Linked DNA regions of Homo sapiens: region 1 is linked to region 2. A link means that fine-mapping ties the variant in region 2 to the expression of a gene that starts in the linked region. Tissue or cell type: monocytes after LPS. Region 2 holds a variant in brackets; the other region holds the start of a gene. All regions are shown on one strand. Distances are from middle to middle.

Region 1 (5,967 bases), 190 kb after region 2:
CCCACTGGGAGATGGGACCCACTGCTAGTGAGCCTGGTGCCAGCCCTGAGATGTCAATGCCTCATGTCCTCCTCGTGGGAGTCATTAACTCCTGGTTCAGTGTCCTCCTCCAAAACCTCCCAGGATTCCCATGTCAGGGACAGCCCCGTGTTCCCTCAGTCCCTGGCCAAACGTCCAGACCCATCTTTGTGGCCTCCCTGCCCACAGCCCACTAATGTCCGCCCGCCTTGACTCCCTCTTTTTTGTCCCCACAGCCCTGGGCCAGCTCAGGCCTTGTCCTCTTTTCTCTGGACTCTTACCCCAGCCTCCTCCCTGGCCTGGCTTCTAATCTCTCCCCTCAGTTCATCTCCCATAGAGTCCCAGAGTGGTCCTTCTGCACCTGCAAGCTGAGTTTATCCCTGGCTCACCCCTCCCATAGCTCCCCAGCACCCATGGGACAAAGTCCCAGCTTCTCAGGCTGGCACTCAGGTCCTGTATGGCTGACCCCAGCCATCTCTCCAGTTATGCTTCCCTCAACTCTAACCACAGTGAGTTTTGTTTTTTTTTTTTTTTTTTGAGAGGGAGTCTCACTCTGTCACCCACGCTGGAGTGCAGTGGTGCTATCTCAGCTCACTGCAACCTCTGCCTCCCAGGTTCAAGCGATTCTCCTGCCTCACCCTCCCAAGTAGCTGGGATTACAGGTGCCTGCCACCACACCTGGCTAATTTTTGTATTTTTAGTAGAGATGGGATTTCACCATGTTGGCCAGGCTGGTCTTGAACTCCTGACCTCAAGTGATCCACGTGCCTCAGCCTCCCAAAGTGCTGGGATTACAGGTGTGAGCCACCGCACCCAGCCTAACCACAGTGATTTTAATTACCTGCATGCCCCAGACCTCCATCAGAACTAAGCCCTTTCTTTTCAGCTCAGAGGTATGCCAAGTCAGTATCCTTATCTACAGTACCCTCAGCAGGAACACCCTGTACCTTGTTTGCCTGGAGAACTCCTACTCATCCTTTAACACCCAACCCAAATGTTCCTTACTCTGCAAAACCTTCCTGTATCTATGCTGGCCTGGTGCCACATCTGGGCTGTCACAATACTTTGCACTTCCTCATTATTATGTCTCTGGATTAGGACTATTTCAGCCGGGGCCTACTGCCCTCCCCAGAGAGAGAAGGTTGAGTGTAGGGAGCTGAGGCCAACATCTCTCAGAGTCTGTAACATTGCCCAGCACAGGGCTAGCCATACAGACAACACTCAGTGTGTGTTGAGTGAATGTCAAAAGCAGGGGCTATGCTACGTTAGACAGACTGTGTCCCCCAGTCCTGCCTCAGCCCTCCACTCACCACACCGTTCACCGACAACAGTTGATCCCCACGCTTGAGGCCTCCATGGCGGTCAGCCACACCCCCTGGGATGACCCGGGAGATGTAGATGGGCGAGTTTTGCTCTTTGCCACCCATGATGTTGAAGCCTAGGCCCTCATCCGTCTTGGGTAGCTCCACTACCCTGGGATGTGCGTGGCCCTCGCTGGCTGTGAAGGCAGCCACTGTGGCCTGGGAGAGAGAAAGCGACTGAAGATGAGGGCCCCTTCCAGGTAGGCATGAAAGCTGGGGTGGGGGATGTGGACCGAGGACAGCGATTTAGCCTGGGTTACTATCCCCAAGCATGGGACACTTGTCATGGCACAATGCACGATCCCCCTGTAATGACTGTGCGTCTCTTTCTGTTCACTTGCAAGAGAAAGTGTCCATTTGGTGTGTGTCTTGAATACCCCATACTTGCCAATCTTACTTTTTTTTTTTTTTTGAGATGAAGTCTCACTCTGTTGCCCAGGCTGGAGTGCAATGGCATGATCTCGGCTCACTGCAACCTCGGCCTCCTGGGTTCAAGCGATTCTCCTGTCTCAGCCTCCGGAGTTGTAATCCAGCTGGGATTACAGGCACTCGCCACCACGCTCGGCTTTTTCTTTCTTTTTTTTTTTTTTTGTATTTCTGTGGAGACGGGGTTTCACCATGTTGGCCAGGCTGGTCTCGAACTCCTGACCTCAACTGATCCACCTGCCTCGGCCTCCCAAAGTGTTGGGATTACAGGCGTGAGCCACCGTGCCTGGCCTCAATCTTACTTTTAAACAGAGGAAAGCCAGGCCTGGAGGGAGATCTGAGCCTCCGGACAGCAGCAAGAGGTAGCAGCATCTAACTATTGTGCAGTGAGAGGTCAGAGCGCCATGAGTTTCCTGGTTTGCACTGTACAGATGTTGAAGGTTATCTTCTACCAACCATGCCATACTGTTTCCATTTGCAGTTGCTAAAGATGCCTTAGTATGACATTTAAGTTAAAAATGTGCGATTATTTACTAATAGTAAGGTGGCACATAGATTTAGCAAAAATCATGAGGGAGGAAACAGAAATGACTGGCATGAAGGAGATATTGAGTTCGACTAGGCAGTTAAATAGACACCAGGAGCAATGGGGTGCGGGGCCCACCTTGGCTGTGGCATGGGCTCGGATCTCGGCGCTGCCGGTGATGTCCAGCGTGTCATAAAGCTGCTCATACACCTGGGTGAGGAGGCAGCGGCATCAGGGAGTCGCCAGCTCCTCCAGCCCTAGACGCAGGAGTTCAGGCCTCTAGACCCTCTCCCGCTACCACGCAAGGATCCGCCCCGCCCCCGCAACAGAAGGCCGAGAAAACTACAACTCCCGAAGAACCCCTGAGCTGAAGCGTTGGCACCCCAAGGCGGGCCGCCTCGGGAGCTGCCGGGAGGCGTAGTCTCCGGGCTCGGGACAAGCAGGAGGAGGAGGAGGAGGACGACGGCCACCAGCTCGCGCCCCTGCGCCGCGCGCCCCTCACCTCTCGGATAGCGGAGCAGAAGCGGCTCTGCAGAACTCGCTGGAGGGCCTGCAGCTTCTGCGGCGGCAGCTCCCCGCTGCGCTGGAGCCGCTCGAGGAGCTCAACCGCCCGGGACACGTCTGCGGGGCGGGGGCGGGGCGCAGAAACCCCGAGTGTCAGAGACCCCGAGACGCAGAGAAGCAAGGAGAGCGGCGGAGTGAGGCCGAGCGCACAGTCCGGGGAGGACGGCCGAAGCCTAGTCGGACACCCCGCAGAGTCCAGGGTGGCGCAGGAGAGACTGCCACCAGCGGCCCTGCGGCCCCGGGACCCCTCCACAGGCCGGGTTGTAAGGCGGGCGCCCAGCGTCCCGGCCCGCGCCCAGGGAGCCTCCCACACCTAGCGACCGCCCGGCCCCGGCGCCCGCCCCGCCCACCCCCTCCGGGTCCGCTGGCCCACCCGCACTGGCCTGACCCGGGAAGGGCGGGGACCGGGGGCTGGGTATGTAGGCCGCGGCCCGGGTGGGCAGGGCCCCCTGGCGCACGCTTACCCCGCTCCAGCCCCAGCGGCTCCACCAGCGCAGCCATGTCGGCGCCACAGCTGCCAGCCGCCCGCCTGCCCTGGCGCCGGCGAGGAGGGCGGGGCTGCGCGAGGCCACGCCCCGGGCCACGGGCGCCCCCTGCGGAGGCGCAGCCTGGAGAGCGCCCAGCTCTCCCTCGCCCGACTGCTCCGACCACCTGCCGCGCGCCAGCCGCGCCCTGCCCTCCGCCCCGGCCAGTCGGTCCTGTTGGCGACCCCTCCCACTGCAGGTTCGGTCTGTGTGTACCTTTCAGGATCCGTGTCTGCCTGCCCTCCACACCCGTCTATCCCCTGTCCATCCTTTCCCCACATTCATTCAACAAACTCTTGTGAAACATCTGAGCCCAAGTCATGGACACCGTGGTGAGCAGGACAGCCAAGCCCACGGCCCGAACGAAGCTTCCAGTCTATAGGGGAGGTAGACGACCAACTACGGCTGTGATGAGAGCTGAGAGTGGGGAGGTGATGATCTAGAAAACGAAGGAAATCCTAGAGGAGGGACATTGACATACAGTCCTGGGAGGTAAGATGAACAAGAGGTGGAGCTTGGGTCACCCCCACCACCCAGAAAGAGCCCACGTGGCTGGAAGCAGAGTTAGGATTGGTTGATGATGAGGTGAAAAGGTCGGCAGGATAGTTTATGCCTGGGCTCCTGCGTTGGCATATGCGCCTTGAGGATTTGGGGCTTCATGCAAACTCCTAAGAGAAAAATATGACACTCAAATTTGTATTATTATTATATTATTATTATTATTATTTTTGAGACGGAGCCTCGCTCTGTCGCCCAGGTTGGGCCTCAAATTTGTATTTTAAGATCACTGGGGCCGGGCACGGTGGCTCACACCTGTAATCCTAGCGCTTTGGGAGGCTGCAGCAAGACTACTTGAGCCCAGGAGTTCAAGACCAGCATAGGCAATATAGTGAGACCTCGTATCTATTGAAAAAAAAAAAATCACTGTAGCCACTGTGGAGACTGGTTTGGACAAGAACAAGAGGAGAAGCAGCGGGGCAACTTACGAGGCTACCACAGCCATCCAGGTGGCAGCTAGCACCAGGGCCAAAGCACAGAAGATGGGTGGGCAGATGTGGGAAATGTCTAGACAAGCCTTGGTGCTTGGCTATATAAGGGGATTGGGAGGTGCAGGAGAAGACAGTATTAAGGTGCTTTGGTGCCATTTTTAAGATGGTCTACACTGAAAGAGGGATACTGGATATTTTGTTTTTGAGACACAGTCTTCCCTCTGTTGCCCAGTCTCGAGTGCAGTGGCGTGATCTCGGCTCATTGCAACCTCTGCCTCCCGGGTGCAAGCAATTCTCCTGCCTCAGCCTCCTGAGTAGCTGAGAGTACAGGTGTGCACCTCCACACCTGCCAAATTTTTGTATTTTTCATAGAGATGGGGTTTCACCATGATGGCCAGGCTGGTCTCGAACTCCTGACCTCAAGTGATCCACCTGCCTCAGCCTCCCAAAGTGCTGGGATTACAGGCGCGAGCCACCTTGCCTGGCCGATACTGGATATTTTGAATTTGAGGAGCCTATGCAGAATCCATGGGGAGAAACTATCGATCTAGGTCTAGGGCTCAAAAGAGCAACCTGGTCTGCAGGCATGTTTGAATATTGGGGCATAGGTGGTAAATAAAACCACCGGAGTGGATAAGAATGTCAGGGGCAAGCGAATATTAAGACGGCCTAGAACTGGTCCCCAGACCTCTCTAACACTTAAAAGTCAGGAGGACAGCAGAGAATGGCCTGAAATGTAGGCAGAAACCCAGGTGGGAGAAACCATGAGAAGAGGGGTTTTTAAATTTTATCTTCTTTTTTTGTTTGTTTTAGATGGAGGGGTCTTTGTTGCTCAGGCTGGTCTTGAACTCCTGGGCTCAAACAATCCCCCTGCCTTGGCCTCCCAAAGTGCTGAGTTTACAGGCACGAACCGCTGTGTCTGGCTGCGAGTGTTTTTAAAAAGAAGTGTGGCTGGGCATGGTGGCTCACGCCTGGAATCCCAGCACTTTGGGGGGCCGAGGCGGGTGGATCGCCTGAGGTCAGGAGACCAGCCTGACCACATGGAGAAACCCTGTCTGTACTAAAAATACAAAAGTAGCCAGGCATGGTGGTGCATGCCTGTAATCCCAACTACTGGGGAGGCTGAGGCAGGAGAACTGCTTGAACCCAAGAGGCGGAGGTTGCGGTGAGCGGAGATCATGCCATTGCATTCCAGCTTTGGGAAAAACAGCGAAACTCCGTCTCAAACAAACAAACAAACAAAAAAAGTGAGGCCAGGTGTGGTGGTCACGCCTGTAAGCATTTTGGGAGGCTGAGGCGGGCGGATCACCTGAGGTCAGGAGTTTGAGACCAGCCTGGCCAACTTCATGAAACCCCATCTCTCCTAAAAATACAAAAAATTAGCTGGGCGTGGTGGCGGGTGCCTGTAATCCCAGCTATTTGGGAGGCTGAGGCAGGAGAATAGCTTGAACCCAGGAGGTGGAGGTTGTAGTGAGCCGAGATCGTGCCATTACACTCCAGCCTGGGAAATAAGAGCGAAACTCCATCTTGGAAAATTAAATAAATAAATAAAAAATAAA
Region 2 (7,933 bases):
TAGCTGGGACTACAGGTGCCCATCACCAGGCCCGGCTAATTTTTTTGTATTTTTAGTAAAGACAGGGTTTCACCATGTTAGCCAGGATGGTCTCGATCTCCCGACCTCATAATCCGCCCGCCTCAGCCTCCCAAAGTGCTGCGATTACAGGCGTGAGCCACCGCGCCCTAAGGCCCCCATTCTTAACTGTTAACTCCTGAATTGGGGATTTCTGTCAATCTAGCAGAAACTCCAAAAGGATTCTCTGTACTAGAACCTTGATTGTCTGATCACCCCTGTTTCTTATTTTTCTTATTTTTAGGCATTAATTCCAAAAACATCCATCAGACAGACATTTAGGAAGTGTTCTTTCTATACAACAGAGACTTGGACAGGTGAATCAGACCACAGTCCTTGTTTCATTAAGTTTTCAATTTTGGAGGGGGAAGGAAAGGAGAATGAGACAGCCAAAAACTTGTGCTAACTGGTAACTGAAGTGATGGGTGAGGACAGGAGACAGAGCCATTAATTCTGTCTGGACTAGTCAGATGGGGCCTTCCAGAGGAGGCAACCCTGAGTTGAATTTCTCCCAGTAATCTTTTTTTTTTCTTTTTCTTTTTTTTCTTTTTCTTTTTTTTTGCTTCCTCCTCCTCTTCCTCTCTCTCCCAGCAGATTTTTTTTTTTTAATTTAAATTTTTGAGAACAGGGTCCCACTATATTGCTCAGGCAGGTCTTGAACTCCTGGGCTCAAGCCATCCTCCTGCCTCTGCCTCCCAAAGAGCTGGGATTACAGGCGTGAGCCACCGCGCCCGACCTCTCCTAGTAACCCTAACCCTCACAAATAACCACCATTTTCTTCTAGAAGATGCCTGGGAATATACATGTGTGCGTGTGCAAGAGTTCTTGACAGCATATAGTTAGGAAAGGAATTGCTGAGTAGGGTGTGCTCCCCTTCAATTTTATCATATATTGTCTGGTTTTCAAAGTGGCGTAATGCATTGCCCTCCCATCAGGGATGTGTGAGACTTCCATTTGTTCTACTTTTTGCACAACACTTGATTAAACTTGGTTGGACTTTTAAATTGTTTCCAGTCTGGTGGGAGTGTAATGGTAGTTTTTTTGTGTATTTTCAAAAAAACCTTTTATTATGAGCTATTACCTACATATGGAAAAATGCATAAAACAAGGCCGGGAGCAGTGGCTCACGCCTGTAATGCCAGCTCTTAGGGAGGCTGAGGTGGGAGGATTGCTTGAACCCAGGAGTTTGAAATCAGCTGGGCGAGACCCTTCCTCTAACAAAAAAAAAAAAAAAGTGTATAAAACAATGCACTGTGTAACGAACCGTGAAGTAAACATCACCTGTATTAAGAACTAGAATAACCCTAGATGCTCTCTGTGTATCTTTTTCTAATCATAATCTCTTTACTGCCTCCCAGAGGTAACCATCATAAAAGTCAGGATAGTGGTTACTATATTGCTTAGTAGATACGCATACATAGATGATCAAATGTAAAGAAAAACAAGCCGGGTGCGGTGGCTCATGCCTATAATCCCAGCACTTTGGGAGGCTGAGGCAGATGGATCACGAGGTCAGGAGTTTGAGACCAGCCTGGCCAATATGGTGAAACCCCATCTCTACTAACAAATACAAAAATTAGCCGGGCGTGGTGGCACACACCTGTAGTCCCAGCTACTCAGGAGGCCAAAGCAGGAGAATTGCTTGAACCTGGGAGGTGGAGGCTGCAGTGAGCTGAGATTGTGCCACTGCATTCCACCTGGGCAACAGAGTGAGACTCTCTCTCAAAAAAAAAAAAAAGAAAAAAAAAAAACAAAGAACTAAGGATAGTGATTAATGTTTTTCTTTATATTCTATCATCTATGTATGCATAGCTAAGCAATATAATTTGTCCACTTATATAAAGCAATATGTTTAGTTATTTGTTCCCTCATATATACATTCTCTTTGCTTACTTTTGTGCTTTCTTTTTCTCATCCAACATGTTTGCAATATTTATCCATATTGTGTATAACTTTAATCTGTGCTCTTTCTTTTTCTTTTTTTTTTTGAGACAGACTCTCGCTCTGTTGCCCAGGCTGGAGTGCAGTGGTGTGATCTCGGCTCACTGCAACCTCTGCCTCCTGGGTTCACACCATTCTCTTGCCTCAGCCTCCCAAGTAGCTGGGATTACAGGTGCCCACGACCATGCCTGGCTAATTTTTTGTATTTTTAGCAGAGACAGGGTTTCACCGTGTTAGCCAGGACGGTCTCGATCTTCTGACCTCGTGATCCGCCCGCCTCGGCCTCCCAAAGTGCTGGGATTACAGACGTGAGCCACCACGCCAGGCCTAATCTGTGCTTTTAAAATGCTGTATAATGTTTCAGTATATGAATATACCACAGTTTTTAAAAATCCATTCAACTATTGATAACATTTGGAGTCTTTCCAGTTTTATGCTATTAAAACAATGTTGCTGCAAACATTCTTATGCATGTTCCTGATGTACTACATATGTGCACATTTTTCTGGGATATGAGTTAGATTGTTGGGGCATAGTTGTCTATTCTTGGGTAACAAATCACTCTGGAAGTAAATGGATTAAAACAACAATGATTTATCTCATGATTCTGCGGGTTGGCTGGAAAGCTCTTCTGCTGGGCTTGTATGGGTTCACTGACATGGCTGCATTTAGCTGGAGGGTTGGCTGGGGGCTGAGCCCAGCAGGGACGGCGCTGCTCACTGCTCTTCTTCTTCTTTTTTTTTTTTTTTTTTGAGACAGATCTTTGCTTTTGTCACCCAGGCTGGAGCGTAATGGTGCAATCTCGGCTCACTGCAACCTCCGCCTCCCGGGTTCAAGCGATTCTCCCGCCTCACCTTCCCGAGTAGCTGGGATTACAGGCACCCACCACCACACCCAGCTGATTTTTGTATTTTTAGTAGAGACGGGGTTTCACCATGTTCACCAGGATGGTTTCAAACTCCTGACCTCAAGTGATCCACCCACCTTGGCCTCCCAAAGTGCTGGGATTACAGGCGTGAGCCACCACACCCAGCCGGCACTGCTCTTCTTTAAGTGGTGGTGGCTGGGTTCACTCCTGTTTGTAGTCAGTTGGCTGGCCAGCAAGGGCTGCTCTCTTCCATGAGGCCTCTCCATGGGGCTAGTTTGGTCTTCTTCACATGGTAGCTCACAGAGCACAAAGGCAGACTCAGCAAAGTGTCTTGAAGCGAAGTATAGGACTGCTTCCATTGCTGCTACATTTCTTGGTTGAAGGAAGTAAAAAAGCTACCCCAGATTCCAAAGGTGAAAAATAGACTTTACCTCTTAATTGGAGGAGCTCCAAAATATTGTGGCTGTATTTATTCAATCTACCACATATATCTACAACTTCACAGATGATGCCAAATTACTTTCCATAGTATCTGTGCCAATTTATAATTGTATGTATATGAAATGTGTGTATGGAAGTTCTCATTACCTCACTCGTGCAAATACTTGTATTGTCATAGTTTAAAGCAAAATGTGTGGTCAAGTTCATTTTTGCCCATTTTAAAAAAAATATTGGATGATCTATCTTTTTCTATGGAGTTCTTTATATGTTCTGGATATGTAGTCATTTTCCAGTTGTATATATTAAAATTCTTTTCTCTCACCTGGTGGAGTGCATTGAACATCCCAGGTTCAAGCGATTCTCCTGCCTTAGCCTCCCGAGTAGCTGGGATTACAGGCATGTGCCACCACGCCTGGCTAATTTTGTATTTTTAGTAGAGACGGGGTTTCTCCATGTTGGTCAGGCTGGTCTCGAACTTTCGACCTCAGGTGATCCGCCCACCTCAGCCTCCCGAAGTGCTGAGATTACAGGCTTGAGCCACCACGCCCAGCCAACAAAGGTTTTTAAAGGAAAAAAATGAGGAGGATAACATAATTGTTTTGAAATAATTTTCCTTGACTACAGAGATCGATAACAAGGGTGACACCAGTCCAAGATTGGATAGGCGTTTGTTGGGCAGATGTTTCTGCAGGAATATTTTGTGTGTGTAAGGTTGCAGTGGCCTTTATGCGTGGTTATAGTTTTTGTAGTTGTTTTTCTAATCAGACATACAAGTGTGAGAACCCTCTCTTTATGGCCTTCCTTGACTCAATTTGCTAGGGCTTTCTTAACATTAGTGACTCCATTTTATTCTGATAACGTTCACATTTCCTCTTTTAATCAAGATCTTTCTCCAAAAGCATCACTGATCAATCATTCATATTTGGGTTTTCCTGTCCCTCAATGTCATGATGGGCCTGTCCCAGTTGCTGGTCTCATGTCACATTGAGGGGAATGATGGGTGACTTGGAGTCAGTGTCAAACTCTTGTAGCCACATTTGAGCAACAAGGGACATTTGAAGGGGGTATCTCTTAGGCTAAGTCTATCTGAGGTCCATTATGAAGTTCAATTTTGTCTGTTCCATAGTCTTTTGTTATCATCTCAAAGTGTTTGGCTGGGCCAGCATTATTTTGTTAGGAGTTGTACTTCTGTAAAAATTTAACAAGTGACAGATACAAAGTTTTAAAAAGGGCAAATATAAAGTAAAATTAATAGTAATATGATAATAGTTTTGTGCCCCAAACCTTATCA[C/T]TTGTATAAATCAAATGACTGAAGGGCGTTAGATGAGACCAGTTCTAATGGTGTGGCTTTTTTTCTTTTTTCTTTTTTCTTTTTTTTTTTTTGAGACAGTCTCACACTGTCACTCAGGCTGGAGTGCAGTGGCGTGATCTCAGCTCACTGCAACCTCTGCCTCCCGGGTTCAAACAATCCTCCTGCCTCAGCCTCCCAAGTAGCTGGGACTACAGGTGGGCGCCACCATGCCCAGCCAATTTTTGTATTCTTAGTAGAGACAGGGTTTCTACTAAACCCTATACTGGCCAGGCTGGTCTTGAACTCCTGGCCTCATGATCCGCCTGCCTTGGCTTCCCAAAGTGCTGGTATTACAGGCATGAGCCACCCTGCCCGGCCTACATACTTTTTAAAGTATTCTTGGTTGTCAGATTTTTTTTCAGCACTTTGAATATATCATCTTACTCTCTCCTGGACTGCAAGATTTCTGTTGAGAAATGTGTCGATACTTGTACTGGGGCTCCCTTATATGTGATATGCTTTTCTCTTTCTGCTTTCAGAATTCTTTGTCTTCAGTTTTAAATAATTTGTTTATAATATGTCTCAATGAACTCTTCTTTGGGTTGAATTTTATTAGAGACCTCTGAACTTCTTGTACCTGGATGTTTGTATCTTTCTCCAGATTAGGGAAGTATTCAGCTATTTTTAAAGATAAACTTTGTCCTTTTCTCTTCTCCTCTGTAAATCTTGTTATGTAAGTGTTCTCTTGATGGCCTCCCATAGATATTGTAGACTTTCTTTGGTTATCTTCATTTCTTTTTCTTTTTCTCCTCTGACTGGATGATTTAAAATGATGTCTTTGAATTTGCTTATTCTTTCTTCTGCTTTTCTAGTCAGCTGTTGAAGCCATCTATTGTATTTTTTGTTTATTGTTATTCTTCAGCTCAAAAATGTTTGTTTGGTTCTTTTTCATATTTTCAGTGCCTTTGTTTAGCCTCTTCTTTCGTTGTTCTATTGTTTTCCTGATTTTGTTAAATTGTTTTCTCTGTTCTTTTATAATTGACTGAGATTCTTTAGAACCATTATTGTGAATTCTTTGTCAGGCAATTAGTGGATCTGCTATTCTTTGGAGTCAGCTAATGGAAGTTTATTGTTTTCCTTTGGTGTTATCATGATTCTCCAATTCTTCATGATTTTTATAGTCTTGAGAAAAGCATTTGAAGAAGCATTAACTTCAAATGCTTTTTTTGGGGAGAAGAGTGGTGCTCTCTGGCACTGGGTCCAGTGGCACAGAGTGCCAACTGTGGGTGGGGGTGCGTGTGGTGGGTCCAGGTTGGAGGGACACAGAGTCTTGTTAGCACAGGCAGCTGGGGGCTGTGATGTTGATACCTGCATGGTCCTTGGTGGCAACAGCTGTGGGAGGTCCACAGTGGCTGTGAACCTCCCACAGAGTTTTCTGGGACCTCAGCTGTGCCTCTTGCCTAGCATCTAGGGGCCAGGACTCGCAGCAGTGGAGGCTGGGGTCAGTGGTGTGCACACACTCTGCTGCAGAGGCTGGCTGTAGGCACAAGCATGGCAGCAGAGGCTAGTTGCAGGCTCATTAATGGTGGCAAGGGGTGGAGTCAGAGGCAGGGGCTGGGGTTGACTAAGGGCATGCATGTGGCAGTGGGGCCTGACAGCTTGTGCCTAACTGCAGGGGCCTGCTGCAGTCTGGCCACAGAGGTCAGTCCATCTGCATGTACGTGGGCAGTTGCAGGGCTGAGCTGGAGGCGTGTGTGCACATGCAGCCGCGGGGCCTAGCTGAGGGTGCAAACGTGATGCTGGAGTTAGAACCTGGGGATGGGGAGGCATGGCTGTGTGCAGGCACATGCATGGTAGCTGTGCTGGGTCCTTGGCTCAGAGCACTTGTAGAGGCAGCAGCTGGGGTGACTCCATAGAGGAGGGGTATTGGCTTAGGCACCCAGAGAATGCGATGGCCACTGGGGTGAGTCCCTGGGTCTGGTCTGGGTGACCATGGTATTGAACAGCTTAGGTGGTTTCAGGGACAGAGGAAGGAGAAATTAGAGGGCCAGGCACCTGGAGACTGTGAAGGTGGAAAAAACTACAGGGCTTTTGCTGCTGCAGTGCTGGCAGTTGGTTTCCTCAGCTGTGAAAGCTGCTTGGTTCCTCTGCAGAAAATGGTGCTGGCATCAGCCATTGGTAACACCAAGGTGTCCTTGGTGGTGAAAACTGTGGGGAGCTGCACAGTGGCCAGGAGTGCTGTTGAGGTCCTCAGTACAGAAGTGTGCTAGAGACCCGTGTTGAGCAGGCCACTAGGGGGCGCTGTGGCTCCCACCAGCATGGCTGATACTGACAGCCTGTCCCACTTCTTGGTTCCCCATTATCTCCGTAAGTCTCGGCAATGCCAGTCCCCACGGAAATGTGAATGGAGTGAAACTGAAGCTGGTTGGGCAGTGTCCCAAAACACTAGGGAAGCTGGTGGTATAGCCTGCTCTCATTATCCCTGAAAGAGGGTTATGCGAGCCAGGGAATTCCCTCTCCATGCTGAGCAGTGCTGGCTCGGGGGATGGGGTGATGTGGGCAAAATGGAATTGTTCTTTCCACCCTTTCTGTATGGGTTTTTCTAGGGTTCTTTCTCCCACTAAAAGTCAGCTGAAGCCGACTTCTCAATTCTTCCAGAGTAATTTTTATTTTATTTTATTTATTTATTTATTTTTGAGATGGAGTCTCGCTGACTTCCAGGCTGGAGTGCAGTGGCCTGATCTCGGCTCACGCAACTTCCGCCTCCCGGAATCAAGCAATTCTCCTGTCTCAGCCTCCCAAGTAGATGGGATTACAGGAACGTGCCACCATGCCCAGCTAATTTTTGTATTTTTTGTAGAGACGGGGTTTCCCCACGTTGGCCAGGCTGGTCTCGAACTCCTGACCTCAAGTGATCCTCCCGCCTCAACCTCCCAAAGTGCTGGGATTACAGGCATGAGCCACCGCGCCCGGCCCAGAGTAATTGTTGTTCAAGGATAGTTGCCAAATTGTTGCTCTTTATAGAGAAAGGGAGGCTGGATCCCTTTCTCTGCCATCATGATAGGAAATAATTGGCTCTGTCTCCCATCTTACTTTGCTATTTGTTTCTCCTGGTCTGTATTTTGTTTTTTCTCTTTTCTTGCCTTCTTTTGGATTGACTTAGTAGTTATTTATCATTCCATTTTTTTTTTCCTCCACTAGTCTGGAAGTTATCCACTCTGTTTTCTGTTCTTTCAGTGATTTAGTGATTTCCCCAGAATTCACAATATGCATTCTTAATTTATCGATGTCTAAAGGTAATCAGTACTTCACTGTCTTTCAAGATAAGGGCTCCA

Alleles and levels. Positions count from the first base shown, and alleles are read on the strand shown. Sizes are in standard deviations (SD) of each study's normalised expression.
For the expression in monocytes after LPS of the gene that starts at base 3,431 in region 1, allele T in region 2 goes with a lower level than allele C (large effect, 1.7 SD a copy in Fairfax 2014).

What was found. PIP is the estimated chance that this variant, and not a neighbour inherited with it, causes the effect.
Region 1: LIN7B starts here. The variant in region 2 is fine-mapped to the expression of LIN7B in monocytes after LPS (Fairfax 2014, PIP 0.95).

The regions. Positions count from the first base shown.
Region 1 is chr19:49,111,834-49,117,800 of GRCh38, reverse strand. LIN7B (lin-7 cell polarity scaffold B) reads right to left here and starts at 3,431. Exons shown (of 6, transcript NM_022165.3): 1 at 3,360-3,431; 2 at 2,834-2,952; 3 at 2,470-2,541; 4 at 1,329-1,538. The coding sequence starts at 3,396. RefSeq lists a silencer at 3,032-3,611.
Region 2 is chr19:49,300,410-49,308,342 of GRCh38, reverse strand. All of the region lies in intron 7 of SLC6A16 (solute carrier family 6 member 16), which reads left to right. Among named protein-coding and RNA genes, the nearest start is that of MIR4324, 4.5 kb to the left of the region's middle. RefSeq lists an enhancer at 6,710-6,789. The variant C/T (reference allele first, on the strand shown) is at 4,599.